Linked DNA regions of Homo sapiens: region 2 is linked to region 1. Evidence: fine-mapped expression QTL. Tissue or cell type: whole blood. Region 1 holds a variant in brackets; the other region holds the start of a gene. Each region is shown on its reference strand, or each on the opposite one.

The links. PIP is the estimated chance that this variant, and not a neighbour inherited with it, causes the effect.
Region 2: it holds the start of MKNK2, and the variant in region 1 is the best candidate, but not a certain one, in a credible set for the expression of MKNK2 in whole blood (TOPMed, PIP 0.74).

Annotation. Positions count from the first base shown.
Region 1 is chr5:173,776,385-173,779,398 of GRCh38, forward strand. LOC107986482 (a long non-coding RNA gene) reads left to right here and starts at 1,892. Exons shown (of 2, transcript XR_001743004.2): 1 at 1,892-2,057. RefSeq lists enhancers at 1,386-2,585, 2,342-2,636, 2,462-2,681. The variant T/C (reference allele first, on the strand shown) is at 1,838.
Region 2 is chr19:2,049,760-2,052,515 of GRCh38, forward strand. It overlaps MKNK2 (MAPK interacting serine/threonine kinase 2), which reads right to left and starts at 1,485. Exons shown (of 14, transcript NM_199054.3): 1 at 1,337-1,485; 2 at 1,042-1,188. The coding sequence starts at 1,092. RefSeq lists enhancers at 1-393, 570-629 and silencers at 200-389, 1,120-1,659.

The sequences.
Region 1 (3,014 bases):
CAAAGCAGACCCTCGTCAGATTCCAAACTGCCAGTGACTGATCTTCAACTTCCAGCCTCCAAAACTGCGAGGAATAAATTTCTGTAGTTTATAAGCCACCCAGTCTATGGTATTCTGCTATGGCAGCCTGGAATGACCAAGACAGCAGCCAAATGAACTTTTGGATGGGGCCTCGCAGACTTTCAGGGCCTGGAGATCCTCTGAGAAGAACATCTCTCTAATTCGGCTCCCTCATTTCAAAGCAGGGAAAGAATCTTATTTGCATGATATAATAAGCAAGAAGCTGGGGCTGGGCTGCTCTCTCTTTAACTCTTCTCAATAAAGAACTGAATCATACAATAGGGAGCCCCTTGCCCCTGGGGAGTAGGGGAAAGTGAAAAGACAGGGAAACAAATAGATTGCATCCTGTGGTAAGAGAGTTTTTCTCCTGTGAAAATTCTCTTTCAATCCTTGTCATTACACCAAGAAGAAAATCTCACTTTGGTACTAATAGGTCTTTAACGCCTCCCTCAAACTTTAACACCTCTCCAAATCTCCCTTTCAAATGGGAATCAAACAGGCCTCAAGCCCAGAGTCTTCCACAGGCAACCCTATTCCTCTAGAATTAAATATTCTAGAGTTTCATAATATCATTTTATTTTCGTGGTATATCTTTTTCTGGATAGCTTCTATTTGTAGCAGGTGGGATTGGCTTTCCATCTATGGTAGTAAGTTTTCCTTTTGAAGAAATGTATTTTAAGTTTTAAATGGGAGACAAGTTGAGGAAAAATAATGAGGGAAAGACTAGACCACATGATATGCAGTGATAGCAAAATTATCGGTAGACCTTAAACCATTGAAGTTTGAAAGCAGGAGTGGAGGACAGAGGGATGGGCTGGTGACCCTGGGGCCGCTCACCAGAGCAGGCTCCACACATGTTATTAAGCAAATGTCAAGCCTGAAATTTAAAAGGTGGCTCTTTAAATGAATTAGAGTCAGAGACACTGGAAAGTGCCAGGAAATTCTTCACGTGACCTTGAACAGACAGAAACCTCCTGAGATGAGAGAGTACAGGTCTATTATTTGACTTGGCAAAGGACCCTTCTGGTGGATAGGGGTGTCCCTTCTCTAAAAAATGATGTGCAGTGCATTTCTGTATGTTTCCTGTGAATAACCACTGAGGCACCAGCAAGGGGAGTCATGGGGGTAGAAGGACAGCCGCGGTAGCCATCACCCATTGAGACCCTGCTCAGCTCTGCCTGTGCTGCCAGGAGCCTCACCTCACCCTTTCAACAGCCCTTTCATGCTGATGCTAGTAACCTCTGACGCTTATGGAGCACACACTGTATGCCAACATCTCTTCAAAGCCTTCATTCATTCATTTAATCCAAACAGTAACCCAAGGAGACCATCATTATTACTCCCACTTTACAGATCAGAAAACTGAGGTGGAAAGGGTAGGTCACAGCTGGTGGTCAGTGGTAGAGGCAGATTCAAGCCCAGACATTCCGGCTCCAGAGCCTACACTCCAACTTTGTGGAGGGGAGTGACAGAGGAGGATGCACAGCTACTAAATTGTAAAGTCAGCAAAACCATCCTCCCCAAGGTGGCATTTCCCCCAAAAGCAAGCTATTGCATTAATTCAACAAATGTTTGTTGAGCATCTACTATGTGGGAAAGACCCTCTTTTTGTTCCAGTCATCGGCAGCTGGGGGCTCTAGGTCCATCCCTGCCCTCCCCGAAGCAGGAGAGTAACCTTGTAGACTTCCTGTTAGGGCCCTGGGGTCTCTGGGTGAATTTGATGCAGACTCAGCCATTAGCCTGGCTGGGCCACAAAATCAGGAAGCTTAGACCAGTG[T/C]TGTGGAACCTTGATTCCTGTCCCAGTTTTGTCATTTCCTGCCTCAGCCTCTTTGCAACTCCCGGCCTCAATTGCCTCACCTCCAAAATGGAGGTCTTAATGACAATGGTCTGGCTTCACTCACAGGGTTATCGTGAAAATCAAAAGAGATTGCTCAGGGAAAAGCCTCTTCAAACTGGAGCTCCAGGTGATGGTTGTCATCTGTCGATGTTGCTCTCTGGTGAGTTCTTTAAAAATGGAAATTACTGTTTGTTTCTAATTACAAAAGTTCAGGAGTTACAGAATAGCACACAGATTTTTAAACACGGTTTATTACCCCACTACTTGTTAATAATCTCTACTAACCTGTTGGTGTATTTCCTTCCGGATACATAAAGAGAGTTGAACCCTGAACGATATGGAAGTTGGGGTGTTGACCCCCCTCAGAGTTGAAAATCTGCATACAACTTTTGACTCCCCAAAACACTACAGATAGCCTACTGTTGACTGCAAGCCTTGCTGAGAACATAAACAGTCAATTAACATATTTTGTATGTTATATGTATTGTATACTGTATTCTTACAATAAAGGAAGCTAGAGTAAAGAAAATGTTATTGAGAAAATCATAAGGAAGAGAAAGTATATTTACGTTCACTACGCAGAAGTGACTCAGCATAAAGGTCTTCACCCTTGTCATCATCAACTCGAGTAGGCTGAGGAGGAGGAAAAGGAGTGGTTGGTCCTGCTCTCTCAGGGGTGGCAGAGGTGGAAGAAAAGTCACCTGTAAGTGGACCTGTGCAGTTCAAACCTGTGTTGTTTGAAGGTCAACTGTATGATGATTGCCTACATAGAACCCGGTAGCTTTCTACAGCACTTGGAAGGAAATCCACACTCCTTATCAACACTTCACCTTGACTTTCAGTCTGTGTGATCTGGCCCTGCTTGCCTCTCCTACCTCTTCTCTCTCTACTCACACATTATTTCTCTTTCTTTTTCCCTCCTAATACACCAATGGCATTTCCCCTCAAGGCCTTCGCCTCTTTGCCTGAAATGCTCTGGATTTCATGACTCTGGAAATCATGACTGGATTTTTTTTTTTTCAGCGTGCAAGTCATGGCCGAAATGTCACCTCCTTGGATAGTCCCTCCATCTTCACGCACACTAAACTAGTCCATCTTGCATGCCTTTCTTCATGGC
Region 2 (2,756 bases), not on the chromosome of region 1:
GCCTGCTGCCCTAGGGGAAAACTGGGCAGGGGTGGCAGGGGTGGAGTGCTGCCCTGGGGCACTGGCTGGACAGACCTGGGAATTCTTCCCAGTCTCTCTTTGCTCCTCCCACCCTGGAGCACCGCGTTGTGTGTACACACAAGACAGAGACACACACACACACAAACACACACACATACACTCACACTCTCTCTTCCTCTCTCCAGTCCTGCCTTCCCTACCGGGCAACAGGTCCCTGCCCAAGGAAGCCCAGTGAAGCGATTACATAACCCCGGCCTGAGGGGTGGGGCGGGCCGGCTGACATCACTGCGTCCCCTGGGCCAGGTCCTGCGGGGCCCCTGCCCAGCACCTGCCCTCCCCTTCCCCCCCAAGATTTGCTCATCTGAAACCAGCACTCAACAGCAGTCACCACCCGGGCTGCGCAGAAACTTCCCGCTCCGACAGGAAACAGCACTTGGGCCTGGGGTGTCTGCGAAGTGCAGGGCTGAGGGGACATCCCATCCCCTCCCCCACGGCACAGGCCCCCTGGGGGTGGGTGCACCTGACCAGCCCGGCCTGGGGATTCTGAAAGAAAGTCCCCAGAAGCCACATGGAGGTGGGAATGGGACTGTGGCCCGCTGACCCGTCCCCACCAGGGCACAACCAGCTGGAGCTTGCAGGGGACACCCCCCATAAGCCACATGCAGCGACTGGGACAGGACTGCAGCCTGCTGACCCCCCAGAACATACCCGGCGGGGGCTTGCAGGGGACACACAGCCTGGTGCCCTGACCCGGAGGGGGCTCCTGCTCCCAGCCTCACTTGGGGGTCCTGGAGGAAGGACCCGGCGGCCATGGCTGGAGAGAGGACTGTGGCCTGCTGAACCCCCATCCTCGCACACCGACCCCGCTTCAGCGCACGGCCGGCCCGGGCAGCCCCGGGTGTAGGGCGGGGGCCAGGCACGAGCCCCGGGAGCCGATCTTAGGGGCGGGCCCCGCGCCCCCCACGCCGGCCATTCCGGTGGTCCAGCCCGGAGCGCCCCCAAACCGACCCCGGGCCTCACCTTGAACGAACGGTGGAAACCCTGAAGTTCGGCTGGTTTCTTCTGCACCATCTTCTGTCCGGGCCCCGCCAGCGGGGGAGGGGACCGAGGGCCCGGGGGGAGGCCCGAGGGCGGGCGGCCGGGCGGGGGGCGGCCGAGGAGGGGACCCTGCGGGCGGGAGCAGACAAAGGGAGGGCGGTGAGCGGAGCCCGGCCTGCCAGGAGCGCGGACCGGGCGGGGGCGGCGAGGGCTCCGCGGGGCCCGTTTCCCGCTACCGGGTCGGTGTCCTCGGGGCCGCCCTGGGGTTCGCACTCACCGGGGTCGGGCTTGGGCCGGGGCCGCAGTGCCGCCGCCGCCCCACGTCGCGCAGCCCGGACCCCGCTCCGCGGACCGCGCGGGGAACAGCGCCGCCGCCGCCGCCAGCGCGGACCCCTCTACCTGGGCCACCGCCGCTGAGAGGAGCCGGGCGCGTCGCCGCCGCCGCCACCTTTATAGGCCCGGACCTGCTCTGGCCCCGCCCCCGACGCAGGCTCCGCCCGGCCTCACCCCCTGCGCACGACGTGGGCGGAGCCAGAAGAGGGCGCTCTCCGGGAACCCAGTGCGGCTGCGCGCTCCGGCGGTGGGGCGTGTCCGAAACGGCTAGCGCACGCCTGCGCAGTGCGGCGCACGGGGGTCTCGGTGCGGAACCTAGGCAGCGACCCTGCGGCGCGCCCGGAGCTGGCCTGTTTTTGCCGCCTGAGGCTCGCGGGGCCCGTGGGACCTGCGAGGCCCTGGGCCGTGTCCTACCGCCTGGCCCCACACAGGGCAACTCCCTTGGCCTGTCAACCCAGGCCTAGTATACCCCGACTCCCTTGGTTCATGCCCTCGCTCTAGAACCTGCCATGGCTCCCTCTTGCAGTTCTCCAGTGCTGGCTCCAGCAGTCCCCCTCGTGCACCACCAGCACGCTTGGAGTCCCAGCCACTCCCTTCTAGTGCTGGGGGACCAGCCACCGCCACCTACTTTCTTCTTCCCCTGGGCCACCCTGCCTGGGGAGCACTGAGCTCCCCGAGTTTGCTTTGTGGTTGGCAGGAACCAGAGTAGAGGGTGGGGACCGAGGTCTGTGAAGGACCCTTCCTCTGTCCTCGAATAGCATTTCAGGGAGAACTGGGACCTGAGACCCACTGGGAAAGAGCCCAAGGGGTGGATGGTCGCCAGGACAGGAAGTAAAACACAGTCCCATTTTGGCTGGGGCCCCAAACCAGGCTTAGATAGAATCAGCCTGTCCTGAGCTGCCAGTCCCCCATCCCACAGCATCCTGGTTCAAAGTGCTCCCCAGGCCCCGGGCCTGGGGCACACAAGGAGTGGGGGTTCCCCTGCTGGGTGGACTGTGGTCTCCTCTTCTGCAGGGGTTTCCAGAAGCTTCGCACAGCCCATCCCACCATCCCCCAACCAGGCCCTGAGCTCAAGAGGGGCTGGAGCCCCACTGACCTGAAGCTGGAGGGCCCCTGCCTGCAAGGCCACAGCTCTCAGGCCACAGGGGCTGGGAGGCCTGGCCTCAGCCACCCCCGGGGCATTGGGGGGAAGCCTGTGGGGAATTCCCAGCCAGAACCCAGCCCAGCACCTGGCATTGCCCTGACTCTTGGCAATGGGGGGACAGAAAACCAGGTCCCCCAGCCCCCCTTATTGTGCATGTGGGTGCGTGTGTGTGCGTGTGAACACATACACGCACAAACACACGTTAGCTCCAGGTGCCAAC